3 separate regions of the Homo sapiens genome follow, and all the other regions are linked to region 3. The links come from fine-mapping of genetic effects on gene expression. A gene starts in region 3. Each other region holds a variant in brackets. All regions are shown on one strand. Distances are between the middles of the regions.

Region 1 (7,339 bases), 19 kb after region 3:
TGGCAGCAGAGCTGGCAGGCTGAAACCGCTTCCATGGAGATGCATCTCACAGGGTCCCAAGTGATGTAAACAAAACTTGTGTAATGAACACAGCATCTCCCTCAGCGGCTGTGTCTGTCCCATTTTCTTTGACTTTAAATACATGATACTCTGTGGGAAGCATGAGCTGAAATAATGATCTCGTCAGTGGGTCTTTGTGAAAACTAAAAAGATTTTTGAAATCTAGAGGCACGCAGCTTTTTTTAGTATTTGAATGCATCTTTCTTCACACTTTGGGTTTGCAGAACAAATGTTTGCATGTAATTTTGCTTCCTAAAATGTCAAAAATAGCACAAATATGAAAACAAGTATTCTCAAAGAGTGATCTTTTATGGAAAGACTGCTTACAGTAACTCGTTCCAGTTGGCTTTGAAAAATGCTGCGTGGAATTATCTTCACATACTTGGGAACAGGGAGTGTAAGGGAAACCCCTGCCTCACCGTCTCAGGAGCATTGTGACGAGGGCCTCTTCCTTTCCTGGCCTCCCACAAGCCCCAGCATCTGTTGATTGAAAGAGGAAGGTGTATCTCCTATTTTAAAATCATGTATAATTTTATATTTTCTAAAACATAAGCATGGCTAATTGTATGATCGCTTATGTCATTTGTAAGGAATTCAGCATAAAAAAATTTTTCTCAGCTGGGCGCAGTGGCTCACGCCTGTAATCCCAGAACTTTGGGAGGCCGAGGCGGGCAGATCACGAGGTCAGGAGTTCGAGACCAGCCTGACCAACATGGTGAAACCCCCGTCTCTACTAAAAATGGAAAAATCAGCCAGGCATTGTGGCACACACCTGTAATCCCAGCTACTCAAGGAGAATGAGGCAGGAGAATCGCTTGAACCTGGGAGGCAGAGGTTGCAGTGAGCCGAGAGCTCACCATTGCACTCCAGCCTGGGCAGCAGAGCAAGACTGTCTCAAATATATATATATATATATTTTTTTTTTTTCTCAGAGTTGCAAAGACAGAGACCTCCTTTGGTTGAGAGGAGGGCAAGTTTCGAAAGGAGGAACTTTGCTGTGGGGAGGAGTCAGTGGCCAGGCCCCACAGAGTCTGACGGCCTCTCCTGGCATCCAGCCTCACCTCCTTCCTAATGATACAACCTGCATGTTTTAGCTGGATGTGTGGCTACCCAGGGTGAAGACTGTATTCCCAGCCTAGGTGTGGTCGTGTGACTAATTCCTGGCAGCACATTGGATATGATCCCAAGATTGTGGAGCTTCTGGGAAGTGCCCTTGAGTAACTTCCTGTTGGCTGGAAGGTAGCTGTGTTGGCTAGAGCTCCAGCATCCATCTTGGCCTATAAAACAACTTCAGGAAGGGAAATTAGGCCAGCAGCAACTGGGGAGAAGGAGTCTGGGTCCTGGACCTTTGGAAGGGCCCTCTCAGTTCTGGACTGGCTACCTCTGGCCTTATGAATGGGAGGGAGGAATGAATGGTGGGGGAATGAATAGGAGTGGGGAGTGAATGGGAGGGGGGAATGAATGGGGGGGAATGAATTGGAGGGGGAAATGAATGGGAGGGGGAATGAATGGGGGGAATGAATGGGGGGGAATGAATGGGGGGGGAAATGAATGGGAGGGGGAATGAATGGGAGGGGGAATGAATGGGAGGGGGAATGAATGGGAAGGGGAATGAATGGGAGGGGAGAATGAATGGGAGGGGGGAATGAATGGGAGCAGGGAATGAATGGGGGGAAATGAATGGGATGGGGGAATGAATGGGAGGCGGGAATGAATGGGAGGGGGAATGAATGGGAGGGGGGAGTGAATGGGAGGGGGGAGTGAATGGGAGGGGGAATGAAGTTCTATCTCATTTAGGTGATTATTGTTTTGGACATTTCTGCTACTTGGAGGTACAGCTGATTCTAATGGACCTGCAGGCTCCTGGAGACACTTGGACTGGAAAAGCAAAACCAAGGCCCATGACATCTATCTTTGCATATTGAAGTAGATTTAGAAAACCCTTTCGAATCCCTCTGAGTACTTTTATTTGCTGCTCCCTCTCAACCTCAACTTTGTTCCTCATCCCACTTTCTACTGGACATTTTGACCTGGCCCTTTGCCCTCCCTTCCCTTTGCCCTCCCTTCCTGCACGCTGCTGAGCTGTAGCTCTCTCGGGGGTGCCCAAAGACTCCAGCCCTCCCAGCCCCATCTCCCCACCCTCGCCTCAGCCCTTCCTCCTCACTGAGCCCCCGTGCCTAGCTGTCTGCTGACCGTGGGTGCTGCCTCACACTCCAAAGCCCATCTCCTCCTCAGGTCACCCCTTGGCATCCGACACCCCCAGAACCTTATTCACCTTCTCTGCAGGTCCAGAGCCCAGCAGAGCTCTATGCCATGGCAGGAGAGTGGGAGGCATTTCCTAAGAATGCTGCCTTTGGCTCTGAATTCCCAGGACATTTTGGTTGCATAATATTCATTGTCTGAGAAAAGAAAGAAAAGAGACTCATTTGGAGAATTAAAAAAATTATTGTAGAAAGATTTCATTTAATAAATCCTCACTCTCATTAGTATCTAAGTAGCCCTTTTACTGTCCTAAATAGATGCCAGGGCAGGAACCAGGGTGCAGAGGGCTCTGGCCCTGGCGGCAGCCTGGGACTCACATTGCTATAGGTGGGCCCAGAGGCTTCAGGGAGAAGCCTGTCCCCTTCTATCTCCCCTCTTCTCTTGTGGAGAAGCAGCTCCTTCCTGCCTGGGAGTCCCAGGACATCTTCGAGGAGGGGACATTTGAGAAGGATGGGGGAAGAGGCCAGGAGAAAAGCAGGGAGGGAGGAGGGAAACCCATCATCAGCTCTGGCCGAGGCCTGTCTTGTAAGACCCCAGGGCCAGGGCCAGGCCGGATGTGTACCAAGTCGGACCACGTGGAAGAGGCTTGAATGCGTGAGAAGGTGCCCTCTCCCTCCTTCCCTCCTTCCCTGTCCCCTTCTATCTCCCCCCTTCTCTGTGAGCAGGCATTGGCTCCTCAGAAGGGCCTCTCACTCAGTTGGATGGTGATGCATTCCCCACTCATGCCTGGAAGTAAGCGGGCGCAGCCACTGTGGATGAGTTGCCAGTGGAACCATGAGTGTTCCTGCGTGCGGCCTGCACCTGCACACACACCTGCACACACGGGCACCTATACACACACTTGTCCCTGTGTGCACATACCTACACCTGCACACACACCTCCAAACACACCTGCACCTCTACACACTTGGCCTGTGAACACACACCTGCACCTGCGCACACACCTGCACCTATACACACACTTGTCCCTGTGTGCACATACCTGCACCTGCACACACACCTCCAAACACACCTGCACCTCTACACACACTTGGCCCTGTGAACACACACCTGCACCTGCACACACACCTGCACACACGGGCACCTATACACACACTTGTCCCTGTGTGCACATACCTGCATCTGCACACACACCTCCAAACACACCTGCACACACATGTGAACCTCTACACATGCTTGGCCCTGTGAACACACACCTGCATTGGCACACACACCTGCACATGCACCTACATGCACCTGCACCTATATACAAATTTGCCCCAGTGAGCACACAACTGCACTTGCACACACATCTGCACACAAACTTCTGCACACACCTGCACACACCTGCACCTATACATACACGTCCCTGTGCACACACACCTAGAGCTATATACATACTTGCCCCTGTGCACTCACACCTGCACACACACCTGTACCTGTGCACACACCTGCACACATACCTACACACACCTGCATCTATACACACTTTCCCGTGTGTACACACACCTGCACCTGCACTCACACCTGCATGCACACCTGTACCTCTGCACACCACCTGCATGCACATCTGTACCTCTGCACACACCTGCACACATACCTACACACACACCTGCATCTATACACTTTCCCCTGTGTACACACACCCACACCTGCACTCACACCTGCACGCACACCTGTACCTCTGCACACACCTGCACACATACCTACACACACCTGCATCTATACACACACCTGCACCTGCACTCACACCTGCACGCACACCTGTTCCTCTGCACACAGCTATGTCACCCCACATGTGCACTCTCACCTAAGCTGGAGCAGCCCAGAGGGTTTGCTCATTTGCTCATTAAGTGGTTCTTGCTTGAGCAAACC[G/A]GGAAGTCATCTTGAGTGGAAGCACCTGGTCTCTGGTAACAGACGCTGAGAATCACCTGATTTGACCCTTCGACAGTGAGATGATTGTCAGAACAGAACCCTTGTGCATATTTTCAATATGAGTTGATGAGGCCAAGAGCTCTTATTGGATGGGAGGTTTATTTCATAAGCCACTTGATTTTAAAGACTCAACAGAGAGGACATATTTCTTAGTATACTGAGTAAGACATTAACATTTGTGTTTGAGGGAGGACATTTGAGCCAGGATTTTGCAAACATAATTGGTTTGCAGTCCTTGACTCCTTGGAGTGTTTGTGTCAGTTGGGATTGAAACGGCATGTATTTAACTTTATCAGTATGTTTTCAGAGTCATCTTCATTTAGAAAACGCATTGATAACCCAGAATGAACATATTTTTTGCAGTGATATTCTTTAAGCTGAAAATGAAATATTTGCTTCTACACCATTTAGTTGTGCCAGTCGCCTTTGATTTAGCAGACGATTTTGCTCTGGCTAAGTTGCTCTTTTAGACAGACGTTTATATGGGCGATGTTTTCCAGCAATGTGTTTAGCAATTCTCCTTTTCTCCATGTTCACATTTAAAGGGTTGTCTTAGACACCCATTTGCAGCCAACATGATCCCTAAGCTGGGACAAATGCAGCAAGTCAGGCCCTTGTGTTCAGGAAGTTACTCGTCGTGACCCAGGAAGGCAGTGACACAGGGAGTGACAGGGCTCTGGGCTCTGCCCTGTGATCTTGGGAAGTGACTCGGCTTTTCTGCCTCACCTTCCATCCTCTGCAAAGCAGGGGCGAGGTGGAACTTACCTGTAGGACCGTGGAGTCTGGAGGGCGCGCAGCTGTCCTGAGACCGGGCCTGGCCCACAGCGGGTGCTTACTCAATGCTGATGTCTCGGCACGTGCGTCATGTTCCGTTCTGGAGTTAGTCGTCTTTCATGAACACGCGGGAAATTTTGGGGTGGGCAGGGGCCCATCACCGGATCAAGGTAGGGTTTGACCGATGTGACTGGTTAGCTGGAAAACATTGATTATTTTATGGGGGTGAAGAACCAGCCACACTTTTTACAGTGTTGGATCTTAGATTGCAAACTGCGTTTTGTGAAAAGCTGGGAATTTCAGCTTCAGCTACTGATTAAATTACCACAAAAAAGCACTGCCAATTTAGGGTATTTCAGTAGAACTCTGGGTTTGAATATTTCTGATTTCTAGAGGAAGAGACAGCATGTTGCGTCTTGGACAAGTCAACACCTTCTCTTTGAGCAAATTATTTCTTCTATATTCACAGTTGATTCAGAATTAGATGGACCCAGCAACGATGTGTCCTCAGTTCTTCATTTTGACAGTCTGGGTTTGTTACTGCTCAGAGCGCACATGTGTTTCTCCGGACATACATCCCTCGCACATCTGCGCACTGACAGGACTTTAATGTATCAATGTGCACACATCGGGCCCTAGAACCGGAGGCTGTCCACTCTGCTCTGCGGCTACCCTTGCCCTTCAGGGTCTCTGGGGAGACAGTGACACCGTAGGGTGTGGGGCAGGCACCAGGACTCTGCAGCTAGAAAGGCCTGGGTTCAAACCCCCGTACTATTTTTACCACTGTGATAACTTTGGAAAGGGATTTCCATTTCTAAGCCTTGGCGTCTCCTCTATAGAAAGGGGTGAATAAGAAGACCTGTCTTCAGGGCTATTGGAAGAGCATCGTGGTAGAACGCTCTTAGTCAACAGTCACTGCCATCGTTAGCTCCCTAAGTGTGGGTCTCCTCTAACCTAAACACAAAATTCTGGTCTTTCTCCCTCACTGTGCCAGCAAAGGGAATGTACTCTTCACCACCCATCAGGTTTGAAGCTGTGGCTTCTTCTCATCCAGGAGTCTGCTTGGTGCTTGCGGCTGAACTCCTCCAGCATCCTTGTCAACACGGCCTCCTGACAGTGGTGCTCTCCAGAAACCAAGTGCGCTGGTGTTCTGCTGTCTTTTTCTTATTAACCATGAACTCAGAGAATGTTTCAGCAGTTGGTATCATGTCTTTCAAGGTGATGCTTACTTTTTTTTTTTTTTTTTTGAGATGGACTTTCGCTCTTGTTGCCCAGGCTGGAGTGCAATGGGGCGATCTCAGCTCACCGCAACCTCCACCTCCCGGGTTCAAGCGATTCTCCTGCCTCAGCCTCCCTAGTAGCTGGGATTACAGGCGCATGCCACAACACTCATCTAATTTTGTATTTTTAGTAGAGATGGGGTTTCTCCATGTTGGTCAGGCTGGTCTCGAACTCCTGACCTCAGGTGACCCACCCACCTCAGCCTCCCAAAGTGCTGGGATTACAGGCATGAGCCACCGCACCCGGCCAGCGATGCTTACTTTTATTAGAACACGTTAGCTGGCATCTGAGTGTCACAGGGATGCTGTGTGGCAGCCAGCCCGGTGCTTGAGTCACAGCTCAGCTCTGCTTCTCAATTCTCATTCCATCCTTGTTCCCTGGAGTCCTGCGGGAGTGGCTGCTGCTGGATGTTGTCTCTTCTTTGGTAGCTGTCAAAAGAGATTCATGAAAAAAGTGAGTAGGTAAACGGCCCAACTACCTTACTGACCTGTAACCCTAGGAAATAAGCTGGGGTGGTTGGGGGCACAGGATCCTCTAACGGAGACCCCAGGGACCCAGGCGTGTATGTATAAAACCAGCCAACAACAAATCAATCTGTAACAGGCAAGAAGATCTACGGAAATGTTCTCTTTTCCTTTTTTAAGAAGAACGGTGGGAAAGCGATGCACATGGCCAAACGGTGCAATCGGAGGGGCAGATAAACAGCGCGATCGGAGGGGTTGATAAAGGTGTGATCGGAGGGGCTGATAAACGTTGCACAATGTTGCCTGTTTTTCTACATTGTCGCTGTTTCTCAGAAAGTGCCCTCAGGCGATGACACTCAAGAGCCCTCCTCACTGCAGGCTACAGGTGTCTCCCTGGAGAACTGCGGAGGGGCTCTATAGCACGGACCCTGCCCGTGTCATGGGCATACAGAAGAATCCGTGCAGGCTTCCCAACGGGCGGGATCCTGATGAGGGGCTGGTTCTTCTAAAGCAGGAGCAGCTGAGCGTGCAGGGAGGCTGCTGACCATCCTGCCCTGGAGTCTTCCGCAGCCACGGTTGCCTTG
Region 2 (5,000 bases), 37 kb before region 3:
GCTGGACCCACTGGAAATGGAGACGGGGAAAGGATCAAGCCACCGTGTCATCTCCCCAGACCCCGTGGAACCCACCTGGGGCACAGCGAGCGCCCTTCCTGGACTGCACACAGTGAGCTCCTACTGGGCACCGCCATGAGTCCCCTCAGTTTCGTGATATGCGTTGAGAGGTGCTCACACGCCCTCCTCACGTCTACACAAGGGCCGCCAGCTCCAAAGGGCAAGGCGATGGCCCTCCCCAGGGGCCTCCCTGCAGGCACGAGGCTCCACTCCCGAGGAACACCTGCCCTTGAAGACAGGGCCCAGCAGTGACCCCAGCCCCACACCTTGTCAAGGAACAAGACCTGACGTACTTGCCAGCTGTCTTCTGCCTGGGGCCTTGGAAACACGGCCCACTTTTGGCCTTCACCAAGGTTGCCCACAGGCCACGCCCAGGCACGGACCCAGTGTGGTGGGGGCACACGGATTCGTGGTCACCGCGTGCCGCCTCCACCCTCTGCATCTCTGGTTCTGATCAGAATGACTCAGAACCACGCGTGGTGAAGACAATGGAACGGGAAGACCCAGTACCTTCCAGTGAGCTGCACCTTGAAGCCTCTGGAAGCAAAACCTGCCATCTGCCTGCTGCACCAAGGAGGGTGGAGGGTGAAAGCACGCGCATCTGAGCTGGAGGAGGATGGCCACAGGCTCGGAAACCCCGGCGGCACACGTAGGTGAGTGACTGCACACTTTCTCGACCCAGCTCCCATAAATGTCCAGACACTCAGGTTGTGCGGCCCCAGAGGCACGGCAGCCGGTGCCAGTGTGAGCGAGGAACTGGCTTTTCCACGTGACTCTGATCCAACCACAGAGAACAGGTCTGCATGCCCCAGTATGGACACAGTTGATGAAAGCCACTACTTTCTAAAGTAGCCCAAGGGAGACGACAGGATCCAGGTGGACCCTCTGACACGCCCAAGGGTGTGCAGAATTCCAAACAGACTCAGCGCAAAAAGAACAGTGGACTCTGCTGCCTGCTCACTGCCACACTTCCCACGTCAGGGGTGCAGACACAATACTAGACCCAGGTAACCGCCGCGGGAGAGACCCAAGTTCACACGCATTTGAGTCCCCCCTCCCCAGGGAGAAAGAACACTGTCTAACTGGGGACCTGGGGACCTGGGCATCTGAGGATGGCTCGCAGGGATTTGCACCTGGGATTCCCAGGCGGGTGTGGGGCGTGAGCTGCAGGCCAAGAAGGGTACCCTGAGCCATTCAAAGGCAGTGAGACCCCTTCTGCACCCAGGACCCTCCAGCCTGGACCTCAAAACAGAGGCAAACATCTATCTCCACCTCACTGGAAACGCCCTGAAACCGTAACTTCTCCATCTTCCTGCAAACATGATAATCCTTGACTCACATTCTCAAATTTATTTTGTGACTTTTCTTAGGAATACCTCTAAGAACCCCAGCACACAGGATAAAAACAGAAACTGTTCTTATGTGCACAGCACATTATTAAAAAACATCTCTTTAATATTTTCCTTTTCTCTAGGAGAAAAATAAACATTTAAGAAAACTACATACCAGGTTTGAAGGTAATTAGGCAGGTCCTGTTTGTACAAGTTCCTTCTGGAAAAATCATTATCTGGAAGTGGGAGAAAGAAAAGGATCAGCATTAAACTGTACATAATTATAATTCAGAACTTACAGAAGCCAATCTTCACAATATATTTTCTTTTCTGCTGACATAATTTGGACACTGGGATCATATTCAGTACGTAAATTATTAAAATGCATTATGGAAGCACACACTGATTTCCGCTCTGCTGGTTTTATTAAAGTGTGGCAGCAGTATCAACACATAAACAGCATCTGTCTTCTTCAACTACAGCTCCTGGAAAGCAGGGTAGTCGCGGTGCCCACCTCTCAGACACTGTGAGAACCAGGTGCAACTAAATATAACCCACGGTTGGCACAACATAAGCACCTCCTGGGGGCAGCACTCATTCTCATCAGGAAGAAGGTGGGGAGGAGAGCAAAGACCCACAAATGGCAGTGCCTGGCTGATGGAGCCGAAGGAGGGCTGGGACCCCAGCAACGGGCTGGATGAGCAGGAGAGCCGAGCCCCAGTCAGGCAGCACCCTCCACACCGGGGTTTCAATTCCTC[T/C]GACTCACACTGGCCTGCAGTAGCAAAAACTGCCCTCAAACTCCCAGCCCCGCAGGCTGCTTTCAGTTCTGGGCCCCGTGAGGAAGACAGACCTCAGGGGGGCCGGCGTGGGCTCACCCTGGCAAGCCCAGGGCCAGGCAGGCCAAATGGGTGGGGGAGGAGACTGCCTGTGCTTGTGGGGGCAGAGCTGGGGCACCCTGGAAGTCACAGCCCTCTAAGGGGCTGCCCCCAGCCAGACCCTGCAAAGCTTCGTGAGCAATCAGATCCCAGACAGTTCTGTAAAATTTCCAGCTTCTAATGATGGCTCAGCTGGAAAGAAGAAAAACAGCGTCCAAGCTAATGTCAGCCAGGCTGCCCCTACAGCTGGGTTCAGGGCTTCTGAATGCCTGGGAACCAGCATACAGACCAGGAAGTTTACTCCAGGACTTTTAGAACCACCCAACACACAGCAGGCTGACACATCAACTCCAAAATCACACTGCACCAGGAGGGCGGGTGAGCAATGCTCTATCTGAGTCAGAACTTAGTTCAGAAAAGATGATTCAGGAAGCTGAGATGCATTTGAGAATTGTTTTTCTTTACTTTAACTTTAAATTTCGGGCACCGAAACCAAATGCACCTGACAGCACCCTCCTGAGTTCACGCACTCACTAGGAGAAGAGAATCAGAATCCAGCCCCGGAGGAAGGGCCCCAGTTTCTTTCTCCCCACTCGCGAAGTTCGCATCTTTCGGAATAAAACCACTGAAACACAATCAGGGCTACGTGCATTACCTGTGGCCACTTTCCGTTGGACTGCGCCCGTCTCTTGATTTCTTCTACTGTTTTCCTGCGAGAATCCTGGTCTGACCGGGACACGAACACAGGCCGTATATACTGGATCAGAGCTGGAAGAGAGGAGGGGAGACGGATCACGTGGAATGCACGGCTCCCGCCAGGCAGGGCTGAGGAACGAGGGGGCTGCTGCATGGCGCCCAGTGGGGCGGGAGACTCCAGATGCCCCAGGGGCTGTGCCATGGGTGGGCTGTGAGTCCCTGACTGAGGGAACGGGAACAGCACCCGGGCTTCCCATGTCTGTGACAGCAGGAAGCCCTGTAGCCTCAGTGCCACAAGTAACAAACAGCAAGTCCATGGCACCCACTGAGGACACGGAGCACAGAACGGAGGTCAATGAAAGACAACCGCCAGGAAGCAGAAAGTCTTTAGACCCAGTCTTCACAGAGGACAGGGTTGAAGGTGCCAGGTCCCTAGATTGGACCCCGCCTTCCCCCTGTGGGTTGAACTGCATCCCCTAAAAGACAAGCTGAAGTCCTCACTCCTGGTACCGGGAATGGGACCTCATTTCGAAACAGGTGGTAGCAGATGCTCAAGGTCCCGGATGAGGGTCCCTATGGGAAGAGGAGACAAAGCAGATGCTCAAGCTAAAATCCCAGATGAGGGTCCCTATGGGAAGAGGAGACGAAGAGGGGGAGAGAAGGCCAATGATGAAGGAGGCCATAGGAGGATGTGGCCACAGCCCCCACCACGAGCCGGGAGGGCCGAGGGAGCTTTCAGAAGAGCCCAATGCGGCCAGCACTTTGTTCTGGCACTTCTGCTTTTAGACGGCGGGAGAATATGCTCCTGTTGTTCTAAGCCACCAGCTTTGTGGTGCTTTGTAGCACAGCCCCAGTTTAACCATGGCACCCCACAGCCTCCTGGAAGTTGCGGGGTTGGGGTACAAGGGACACCCCGCCATGAAGGCTGGTGCTCAGCCAAGGCAACGTGGCCACGGCACCTGTCTTTATGCAAGAGGATTGAACGTGGAAACATACTTCTTAGAAGAGAAAACTCTGAAGACTTTAAAATGAAACTATCCCTGAGTGGAGCTTCCTTTTTGAGGACGGTGAGCAGGATCCACACTCGGCGCCCCCCAGGCCAACTGAAGGTGTCTCTGACCCCACCACGGGCTCCTAGGCTGCTGCAGGTCAGCCCCACCTCCCCACCCCAGTTCAGTTTCCAGTTTCTTTTCTTAGCGTTTTTATTACTTGTAAGGAGTAGCATTTCATGACTTTTATTCTTTCTTGGAGGTTCTCTCCTCCAAGAACGAGAAAATTGAAGCCAAAAAAAGAAAATTCCTTCTATCCTGTGGTTGTCTGTTGGGTCTCTGTGGTCTTTCCTATGTCTTGAATCATTTTGCTTTTTCACGATTCCAGTACTATTTCATCCTTGCTCATTGGTTATTCCCAACTCTGCTAAAAAGGACGATATCGGAAGGGAAGAATGGCGGAGTCGTCTCGCAGGATGGCGCACGCGTCAAAGAAATGGCCCTGATTGCGTGGTCTTTCGGTGCCCACTGTTTTGGCCAAAGCGTCCCATGGTCGTCCCGGGGCACACGGGGTCTGGAGATGCCACCCTGCCACCTTCGCAATCCTGTCAGCTGGTTTGTTTTGTGAACAGAGTAGAGATTTCAGAAGTTGTCTATAACGGCAAAGAACAGAACAGTGACGTGGGGGCGTTTCACACTCAGATGGGTCCGGGGGTAAATGTGGGGGGTGCAGGGGGAGGACTCTGAGTGAAGTCTTGGGCCGTGCGTCTTCATGTGGGTTGCCCGGTGTGCCTTTCACGCTGAGAACTGGGCAGTGAGGACAGCAAGGAGATGCAGCTCCTCCCCGGGAGCCCTGAGGAGGGAAGGGTGTCACCACGCCGTGTGCACAGCCACACTGGGACTGGCGCATTTTGCCAGCAAGAAGGTGACAGCGTTCTGCCGTCTTTTGGGCATTTGAGGCTCAAACTTTCCTTGACAAGGTTTGTAAATGGATGGTGCGGATATGAAGGTCACTGAAAGGAAACTAAGAATGTGAAAAGGAAAAAATC
Region 3 (10,453 bases):
CTGGCTGGAGGAGGAGGTGTCCCCGCATGGCGCTAATCCGAAGACACACAGCAGCCCCTCCCAGGCGGCAAATGCTCACAGGTAAATGCAGGTACTCACTGGTTTATCTCAACTGGGAACTTAGCTGGGTTTCTGCGGGTTCTTGAGTGTGTCAGCCACTACTGGACCCATTTCTTTCTTTGGGGAAGAAGGCTTTCTTGGCTTGAAAGACAGGCTATTTCACTCTGTGGAAACTTTACAAGAATATATCACATCAAAGTAAAAGCTTTGCAAAGCAATGCTTGGTGAAAAGCAAAATGTTTCTGCAGAGAACTTTGAGAACGTTTACAAACTAAACCCTTGAGCCACACATTGCAGACATCCAGCAGAAACGACTGGATGTACAAACACACCTAATTCCTCAGATGGAACCTCTGAAGTGGCAACAAAGCAAGCCCCCTCTCTGAGAGGCCCCAACACCTCAAGCCAGGATCTCTGCCTGGCTTCGGCCCAAGGGAGAACAGCTGCCCAAAGCCTTCAATCTCGGGACCAGGAGCCTCTCGATGACCCCCTGCCCAAGAGCCACTGGGAGCAGCTTGCACCCTGAGGTCTCGGGGAGGAAAGCAGGCCCCTCTGGGCACTCTGGCAGTGCCCTGACATCTGTACCTACCCATGAGAGTCTCTGCCCTGCTTCTCGCCAGGGCAGTGGGTGCACACTTTTGGACAGAACACACCTCAACCGGGGGCTGCAACTATGACAGGGATGACGAAGTGGCCTCCGGGGACCTCCAGGGAGGGGCTTGATGTTTCCCCCCAGGGAGCCAGGAGGGAGTAGGAAAGGCAGGAAGAGAGAGCATGCCTGAGGCAGCCATAGCTGGGGCAGGAGCAGGGCTGGGGAAGCCCTGGAAACCACAGCAGGGGTTCGAATTTCATCCGGGGGCGTCCCCGCTGAGGGCTTCCGAGCAGCAGAGTGCAGGAGGAAGAAAGCCTGCTGGGAGTGACTCAGGGAGAGTGACCAGGGAGAGAGCCTGGTGGCTGGGTGGGGGTGAGGATTGAAGAGGAGGAATGGTTGAGGGGCACAGAATGAGCGACCGTGTCCCAAGTCCTCCTTTGAGGGGCACAGCACACGGCAGCTGACAGCGTGTGGCAGACAGAGGGCCAGGCAGAGCGGCGGCAGAGGGGCCGGCACCGCCCCAGCCCCAGAGTCCAGCTCCCGACACACAGGGAGACGGGGGCCAGGGCCTGGGAGCCAGGCTGGGGACGACCTCACCCTGTGTGTCACCAGGAGGGGCGGCACCATCGGGCTCTCCTGCTCCCCGTCCCCTTCCATACCCTGAGGACCAGCCGCATCAAGGGGCTTTGAGCAAAAGCAGGCGTCCTGGGAAAATGACAAGCTCAAACTGGCCTCAAGAACTTTTCACTTCAGGGTTCTTTCAGATAAAGTACTTTATGCATTAACAAATCTCCATCTTCCCGGAAATCTATTCTCACAATTGGAAGCGTGCTCCCTACAAACCGGACAGCCCCATAGGCCCCGAAACAGTGCTTGCTTCTAGGAATTATTCTAGAGTCAAAAGTAAGGTCCTCTTGAGAGTGGATCTCAGGTAACTGTAAGCCCAGCTGGCAGCCAGGTAGCCGGAAAAGCCAGGCTGAGCCAGCACATCCCCGGTGCAGCTTCCTGCAGCGAGCGGCCCCCTCCCCACGACGCCCCCGGGTCTCCCCTCACCACTGTCCCATCGCAGGATCTCAGCAAACCGTTCCCTCCCACGTGGCAGCCCAGGTTGCATAAAGTTGATTCGGGTCAGACCAGCCCCGAGAAAGCATCCCTTACAACAGGAGCGAAGCATGCACCCCAGAAGGCAACGTGCGGCCGCAGAGCAGGGAGACCCGTGCGCCTACAGGGGACCCTACAGGGGACCCGCACCGCCCGCGCGCCCTGTCCCGGGCACCACCAGGCCCCGCACACGAGGCTCACCCAGAGCCGCGGTGCCCTCCCGCCCGCGGGCCGCGTCCAGGCAAAGCCGCTCCGGAGTCCCCGGGCTGCGCGCAGGGCCTGCCAAGGCGGGCGGGGCCCGGACCAGGGACGAGCGCGGGGACCGGCGATGCGGGTCCAGCCTCCCGCGGGAGCCGAGGTCGGGGCTCTGGGAGGCAGAGAAAGGGTTGTGGGCCCGGTTCAGGGTGCAGGGGTCTGGGGGGAGGAGCAGAACGCGGGGCGGGGATGGGAAGCGGGGACCCCGAGGAAGGCGCTGAGGGACCAGGATGCGCGTGCGGGCGGCGGGAAGCCGGCGCCGAGACCGAGGCATCGGGTGCGGGCGGCGGGGACGCGAACTGAGGGGCGGCCGCGGGGAGGGAAGGCGCCGCGGCTCGCAGGGCCGCGCCGCGCCCCAGGCCCCCTCCCCGGCCCCTCCTCGGCCGCGCCTCCCTGGCCCCAGCATCCCTGGCGTCCGCGCCGGCTCCCGGGGCCGCGCGCCCTGGGCACCCACCTGGGCCTTCTGCAGGGCGCTGAGGCGCAGCTCGTGCACGAAGGGGTTCCGCCCCGGGGGCGCCAGCAGCCGAGCGTCGCTGGCCCCTGCGCTGGAGGCAGGGGCGGCCCGGGGTCCGCATCCCCGCAGCCTCATGGCCGCGCCGTCCCGCGGCGAGCGCAGCCGAGCTGCCTGGGGCGCCGAGCGGGGCCGGGGCTAGCTGGGCGCGGGTCTCGGGGCGCGGGCCGAGGATGCGCGGCGGCTGGAGCGGGCCGGGCGCGCAGGCGCGGGAGGTGACGTGGGCGGAGCGGGAGCGCCGGCCGGGGCGGGGCGTCCCTGGAAGCCTCGCCTCCCGCCGGCCGGCAGGGGCGGCACCAGCCGGAGTTCCGCTACCTGGTGGTTTCTCTGGGGTCTGTGGGGGGCCGGGGCCGCTGGGGACCGGGGGCGCCTCCTGCAGCCACTGGAGCACAGGGATCCCCGGCAGGGTCTGCGCCAGGAGAAAGGGAGGTCCCCCGGGCCCGCGAGGCTGCCACGTCGTCCCCTTCCGCCGCTCGGCCCGCCTGCTCGCGGGGAGGGAGGAAGGGGCGGGCACGCGTCCAGCTTACGCGCAAGGCGGGCCAGGCCCTGGGTGCCGAGCCCCGGGCTGTTCCGGCGAAGGCCCCACGCCATTCTTCTTATTCGTTGGGCTCCTAGCTCGCACCGGCGACCCTGGAAGCTGCCCCGGGCTGAGGGAGCTTCTTCCAGCCGCGCCTCAGCCCAGGCGACTCCCGCCTGAGGTCCACTCGACCTTAGGACCCCCCAGACCTCGGGATCCCCTCAGATCTCAGGACCCCTCAAGCCTCAGGACCCCCTCAGACCTCAGGACCCCTCCGATCTCAGGACCTCTCAGGCCTCAGGCCCCGCAGGGATGGCCCAGGCAGGAGGCGCACATAGGGGCCCTGACTGTCCGTGCTGGTTGTGCAGGGGCTGCGATGAGATCCCAGCGCTTTCTCACCCGTAGCTGCTTTGGCTCGGGCATTGCCCTTGTGGTGCTCAGGAGCCGTGTGAGGAGCCCCAGGGTGGGGCCCATAATTAGCCGGAGCGAGAGTAGGATGGGCTCCTGCCTCCGGGTGAACACGCTTGGATTTCAGAACTCACGCAGGCCTTCGGTCACAGTGCTCACGGCTTCCTCACCCCGGCTGGCCCTGTTGGTTCCTTCATGGCCAACGGACCTCACCCAGACAGAGCCGGTTTGGGCCACCTGGCCAACCCCCCAGGGTCCTGGCTCCTGGGGATGTCACTGCTGTGTTGGCCCCAGCTGGGCCCCATCCTCAGCAGACGCCAGGGAGTGCCCCGACCCCTCCAATGACCCTGCCTGCGCCCTTGTGGACCTCATAGTGCAGCGGGCTGGCAGAGACCCTTCTGTGTCTGAGACCGGGGTGAGGGCCAGGGGTCTGTGCCATCCACATATCATGCACAGAGAAGGCCCCGGCAGGCCAGACCCGCTGCATGGCCTTATTCCTGCCCCATAAGAGTCCCAGCCCATATTCCTGCCCCATAAGAGTCCCAGCCCATGCCTAGCAGCAGCACCTGTCCCAAGTGCCACACCCACGGGGATGGGGTGAGCCCTGTGTGCTGGTGGGCATTGGTGGCTCTGTGGCCCAGCCACCAGCGTTGCACCCACCTCCTGGGCTTTTAGTGGCCACTTGCTCTGATCCCCAAAACCAGAGCCCAGCACCCGAGGCCACCCAAGGCTCCTCACCGAACTGATCATCAAGAAAGCCCAGGACACAAAGCCTGCCAGCCACAGGGCAGCACCTGCACCCCAGCGATCCAGGCGGCCCCACCTGCTGCCTGAGTGCTCTGGAGAGGAGGGGCCCTAGGGTGTCCCAGTCCTGGGATGAGAGCAGCCTCAGGACTGGACTTGGAGAGCCATGAAAGTGGGGTCCTCCCAGAAGCACAGGCCAGGAAGCGGTGTGTGGCGGAGGGGAAACCTGCTGGAGATGGTGCAGAGCCAGATTCAATGGGGAGAGCTGCCAGAGAGTCATGGCTGTGTCCCCAGAAGATGCAAAAGTCCTAACCCACAGCACCTGTGGCCGCGACCTTATTTGGAAACAGGGTCTTTGCAGATGATCAGGTTAAGAGGAAGTCATTAGGGTGGGCCCTAGTCTGAAATGGCTTGTGTCCCTATAGAGAGGGAGATTCGGTCTCAGAGACAGACACAGAGAGAGCTCCATGGGAAGGCCAGGGTTCTGCTGCTACAGGCAAGCAGTTCCCAGGAGCTGGAGAGGCCTGGAGCAGGTCCTCTCTAGTGCTCTCAGAGGGAGCCTAGGCCTAGGGTGCCATGATCGCAGGCTTCTGGCCTCCAGACTGGGAGAGAATAAATTCCTTCTGCTTTAACCTGCAGAGTGCAAAGTGAGTTGGAACCCAGGGAAGGAGGTGGGGAGGCTGGGGGAAGAACCTCATACTGCCCGGCAATCTAAGCAGGGTCAGCAGGTTGTCCTTGAGCCAAGGTCGGTGGAAAGAGGAGTCCCTCTCCCAGAGGGGTCTTAGGTGGAGCCACTGTGGGCAGCGTGGCCTTGGTGTAGAAGCTCAGTGGATCCTTGGGTCACAGGCACCATGTGGAGGAGGCGCAGAGGCCCAGCTCCGGGGTCAGTACACAAGGGGGCACAGCTGGGAGGGTGGGTGTGACAGGGCCAAGGGCTGTGCAGAGCAGGGGGCAGGACTGGGGCACACTCGTCCTCACCAAGCAGAACCCAAGAAGGCCCCAGAGAGCGGCCAAGGAGCGGAGGTCCCCAGAGGGGCTGAGTCCACGGAACTGCCCCATCCAGGAGGACTGGCCAGGAGAGAACTGGGAAGGCCAGCCAGTGGTAGTAGCAAGGGTGGAGACCACCACCCTGCAGGGTGCTGTGGAGTGGGCAGGAGTTACAGAGGTTCTTTCCCAGCTACCTGAGAAAGGAGGAAGCGTGATGGGCAGGAGGAGGAAAATGGATGCTTGGCGGGAGGCTGGGATCCAGGGCAGCAGCTCAAGGAAGGGGCCCAGGACATGTTCCTGGGTGGAAGGCAACAGGCCAGCCTCACAGGAGACGTTGAAAACCCCTGTGAGAGGGGGTGTCATGGGCCCATCTCAGTCTGGAAGGATTCTGCGCTCAGAGGAAGGAAAGGCCTGGGGCCCGGAGCGGGGACTCCTTCTCTGCTGCAGCTGGAAGGGGTTGGATGGTCCACAGGGCACGTGCCCAGGGGGTGGGGAGCTGGGGCACTCTTGTGTGTGGGAGTCAGTTTTCTCCTGGGGACTGCGAGGGGTGGGGGAGAGGGGCTGCTTATGGGGAAATCAGCGCAAGCGTGGAGGAGCAGCAAGGAAATTCCTCCACCCACACTGGGCCTTCACACTTAGGCTTTGGTTCTGCTATGTAATGGAACGTTCTTAAGACCTGGAGGGTCTGGAAGCTTGACTAAGAGAAGTTGGTCTTGGGTGGGGAGGTATAAGCAGTTTTCTCTGTCTAGCAGGGGAAACATGAGTTTCTCATTAGGACTTAGTTTTGGGAAAACCACCCTAAGGGCCCTTTAGCTACAAAGGGAGCCCCCACTGTGGTTCTCAGGAACCTCCTGGAAGCCCCCCACAGCTCCCTGGGGCTGGTAACCACACCCCTGAGGCTTCTTGCTCTGGTTTTGTCTCTGTTTTAAGAGTGTAAGCTCACAGAGAAGTGTTTCCTATACTCCAAGTGCATTGAGAACACAAGGTACCTGCTTGTTCTGGTAAGGCTGAGTATTTTTGTTTTGTTTGTTTAATTTTTGAATTTTAGAGTTATCTATAGGATAGAAAAAGATATTCTCCTTCATTTTCTACTAACATCTTTTTTCAGTTCTGCCTTTCATGGTTGCATTTTATTCTATTTGAAGATTTTTTTCTCTGCATGGAGACCTGATATTCTCAACACCACGTATCAATCACAGACTCCCACTTGTGGGTCCACTTCCAGCATGAACAGAAAGAAGGGTTCCTGAAGCTCCTTCTGGCTGCCCCATCTCACCCATTGGTCCGTGTACTCCTTTACTCCCGTCTCACCCGCCGGTCCGCGTACTCCTTTACTCCTGTCTCACACCTTTCAACCGTCTGCCTTAGTAACTGTAGAGGGGGTTCCTTCCTGTTGGCGCTTCTTCCCAAGAATTGTAGTAGGAATTCAGGGAATTTTATTTTTCCATCCAAATTTTGGAAGCAGTTGTCCCCATTGCTAAAAATTCCCGCTGGAAGCTTCCTTTTGAATCACATTAATTGTACAGGGTACTTCAGTAAGAATGTTACTTCATTCTTACTGTTCATTCTCCCTGTTCCCTAAGAATGTTACTTCAGTAAGAGCTGGCTGGTCCTGGGAGGGGCCCTCGAAGGGCCAGCAAGGCTCCAAGGCTCCAAGGCTTCAAAGCACTAGAAAATACAAAAAAAAAATTTTTTAAATGGATGATGTGGCATGGACACTTTATAATTTTGAGAACGATTTTTCACCAACATGGTTATTCTACCATTTATTTAGATGTTCTTTCATGCCCTTTGATAGCATTTTAAATTTTTCTACATAAAGATTCTGTATTTTTGTTAATTCCTTGATGCTTCATACTTCTGCAGTGATGTAATAATCGTTTCAAAAATTACTCTTGGGCCGGGCGCGGTGGCTCATGCCTGTAATCTCAGCACTTTGGGACGCCGAGGTGGGCGGATCATCTGAGGTCAGGAGTTCGAGACCAGCCTGGCCAACATGGCAAAACCCCATCTCTACTAAAAATATGACAATTAGCCAGGTGTGGTGGCACACGCCTGTAGTCCCAGCTACCCGGGAGGCTGAGGCAGGAGGATTGCTTGAACCTGGGAGACAGAGGTTGCAGTGAGCCAAGATCACGCCACTGTACTCCAGCCTGGGCAAGAACAGAGCGAGACTCTCTTTCAAAAAAAAAAATTACTCTTGACAGTATGGATTATATGGAGAACCACTACTGCTTGTGTAGAGGTTGTATGAAGACAGACCCCAGGGTACAAGAGGACCTGTGGATGTTCCAGATGAGGAGTGCACAGCCCCAGAGTGAGGGACTCCATCATGTACAATGGATGGACTTCCTATTCAACCCACAATCATGACAAACAGAAAATTGTGGTGGTTTTCAGTCACTACAGACTGAGATGGTTTGTTAAGCAGTGATAGTGTCTTTCAAAGAGCAGATATTTTAAATTTTGATGAAGTCCAATTTATCAGCGTTTTCTTTTAGGGATCATGGTTTTGGTATCCTCTTTTATAAATATTTACCTGCATCAAGGTCATTCAGATTTTCTTACTTCAGAAGTTTTACAGTTTTGGCTTTACCATTTAGGTCTGTATTCCATTTCAAGTTGACATTTGTACACGGCATAAAGTAAAGTGGAGGCAGAGGTTTTTTAGTTTCAAATGTTTTCGTCTGAATATTCAACTGTTTCGGCACCATTTGTTGAAGAGAATATTCTTTCTCCATTGAACTACCTTGACAACTTTGTAAAAAAATTAAGTGGCCATATATGTATAGTTGAGTCTATTCCTGGACTCTGTATTTTGTTCCATGGATCTGTACATCTGCAACTGCCAACATCACACTATACTGATTACTAAAGCTTTATATTAGTCTTGAAATTAGACTGCACTGCACTGGAGTGCAGTGGCCCGATCTCGGCTCACTGCAGACTCCGCCTCCTGAGTTCAAGCGATTCTCCTGTCTCAGCCTTCGGAGTAGCTGGGACTACAGGCATGCACCAGCACGCCCAGCTAATTTTTATATTTTTTAGTAGAGACGGGGTTTCACCATGTTGGCCAGGCTGGTCTCGAACTCCTGACCTCAGGTAATCTGCCCGCCTTGGCCTCCCAAAGTGCTGGGATGACAGGTGTGAGCCACCATGCCCAGCCAAAATTTTAGAATCATTTTGTCAAGAAACTGAAGTATCCAGGAACAAACAAACAAAAGGTTGGTGGGATTTTTAATGAGATTGTGTTGAATCTATTGATCAATTTGGGAAAATTGCCATCTTAGCAATATTGAGTTATCCATCCATGAGCATGGTATACAGATCATTTATTTAGGTTTTCTTTAATTTCCCTCAGCAATGTTTTATAATTTTCACTGCATAGGTCTTACATAGGTTTTCGAATTCTGTTCCTATTTCATGTTTTGATGCTGTTATAAATGATACTGCTTCTTAATTTCAATTTCCAGAAGTGTGTTGCTCGTATATAGAACTACAACTGATTTTATGTATTTACTTTGTAGGCATTAACCTTGCTAAATTCATTTATTAGTTCTAGTGACTTTTTTTGTAGATTCTTTAGGATTTTCCCCATTTCACAATCATAATACCTGTAAATAAGGAGCTTTATTTCTTCCTTCACCAGCAACACGTATGCCTTTCGTTGTTTGCATTTCCTCTTGTTCCACTGACTGTGACATCCTCTACAGAATGTTGGACAGAGTGCTGAGACTGGGCATCTTGTCTTGTTAACAATCTTGGGGATTGTTAGTACCCAGTGCCCAGTCTTGACATGAGCTGTGGGTTTTCACAGATGCCCTGAAAAAGGATGAGGGTGTTCCCTTCTATTGCTAGTTTACTGAGTAGTTTTTATCATTTTGGCCAAAAAGCTTGCTCGCGTCTATTGAGATTATCTTAAAATTTTCTTCTTAATCCTGTGAATATGGTGAATTGAATTGGTTCATATTCTGATTTTAAACCAACCTTGTTTTTCTGGATAGGCCTCACTTAACCATACTACACGATTGATTTATTACCGAATTTAAATTGATAAATTTATGTTAAAGATGTTTGTGTCTATGTTCATAAGAAATATTGGCCGTAGTTTCCCTTTCTTATAATGTCTTTGCCTGATTTCTAATGAGGATAATACTGTCTTTAAAACATGAGTTAGGAAGTATTCCAAATTCTCTATTTCTAAGTAAAGAGTGAGTAGGGTTGGTATTATATCTTCCTTAAATGTTTGTTAGAGTTCATCAGGGAAGCTATCTGGAATGAGAATTTTCTTTTTCAGAAAGATTTAAAGATTATGAATTTGAGTGCTTCATTAGATAGGTGTTATTCATCTTTTCTATTTCTTCCATCTAAAAACCTAAATTTTTTTAGTAATTTAGATATTTCCAGGAATTTGTCCGTTTTATCTAAGTTATTGATTTATTGGCATAAAATTGTTTATCATAATCCCTTTTATCCTTTTAATATCTATAGGATCTAGACTGATAGCCCTTGTTCACGTTTATAATATTGGTAATTTGTGTCTTCTTCCTTTTTCTTGATCACTTTGGCTAGAGGTGTATTTTGTTATTGATCTTTAGAAATAGCTGCCTTTTGAATTCATTGATTTTTTCCTATTATTTTTCTGTTTTCTATTTTTGTTGATTTCTGTCTTTATCATTTTCTTTTCTCTCCTTATTTTAGGTTTAATTTGCTCTTCTGTTCCTACTTCCCTAAGTAGGAAGTATAGACCATTGATTTTAGACCTGCCTCATGTAATACCACAAATTTCCTTCTAAGTTCTGCCATATCTACATTCCACAAATGGTGGCATGCTGATTTTTCATTTTCTTTCAGTTTTCAATGTACTTTCTCTTTTCCCATGTGGTTTCTTCTTTGATTACTGTGGCTTTTTTGTTATGTGTTAACTTCCAAATATTTGGAGAATTTCCAGTTAATTTTTATTATAACTTATTTGTGGTCACAATACATACTCTGTATGATTTCAATCCTTTTATAGTCTGTGTTTATGACTGTTCAGGTGTATATTATAAGAAAAGGTTCTCTTGTTTTTGTGTGGAGTGTTCTATGAATGCCAGTTGACTCCATTGGTTGATAGTTTTGTTCAAGCTTCCTGTATCTTTGTGCTTTTCTGTTACTGTTATATGAATGACTGAAAGACCAACTATAATTGTGGATTTGTTTATTTCACCTTTCAATACTGTTAGTCTTTGCTTCGTATATTTTGAAGCTATGTTATTAGGTACATATATATTTGAAA

Evidence for each region. PIP is the estimated chance that this variant, and not a neighbour inherited with it, causes the effect.
Region 1: its variant is the best candidate, but not a certain one, in a credible set for the expression of LPCAT1 in lung (TOPMed, PIP 0.86).
Region 2: its variant is the best candidate, but not a certain one, in a credible set for the expression of LPCAT1 in lymphoblastoid cells (GENCORD, PIP 0.89).

What each region holds. Positions count from the first base shown.
Region 1 is chr5:1,541,758-1,549,096 of GRCh38, forward strand. It overlaps LOC124901161 (a long non-coding RNA gene), which reads right to left and starts at 6,642. Exons shown (of 4, transcript XR_007059099.1): 1 at 6,552-6,642; 2 at 5,002-5,208; 3 at 2,336-2,459; 4 at 349-540. LOC107986397 (a long non-coding RNA gene) reads left to right here and starts at 6,653. Exons shown (of 2, transcript XR_007059102.1): 1 at 6,653-6,744. The variant G/A (reference allele first, on the strand shown) is at 4,177.
Region 2 is chr5:1,486,825-1,491,824 of GRCh38, forward strand. LPCAT1 (lysophosphatidylcholine acyltransferase 1) reads right to left here. Exons shown (of 14, transcript NM_024830.5): 4 at 2,922-3,034; 5 at 1,567-1,627. It overlaps LOC124901162 (a long non-coding RNA gene), which reads left to right and starts at 2,707. Exons shown (of 2, transcript XR_007059103.1): 1 at 2,707-5,000. The variant T/C (reference allele first, on the strand shown) is at 2,150.
Region 3 is chr5:1,521,248-1,531,700 of GRCh38, forward strand. LPCAT1 (lysophosphatidylcholine acyltransferase 1) reads right to left here and starts at 2,713. Exons shown (of 14, transcript NM_024830.5): 1 at 2,463-2,713. The coding sequence starts at 2,597. RefSeq lists an enhancer at 236-740, silencers at 1,901-2,100, 2,371-2,680, 2,701-3,100 and a cis regulatory region at 3,870-4,105.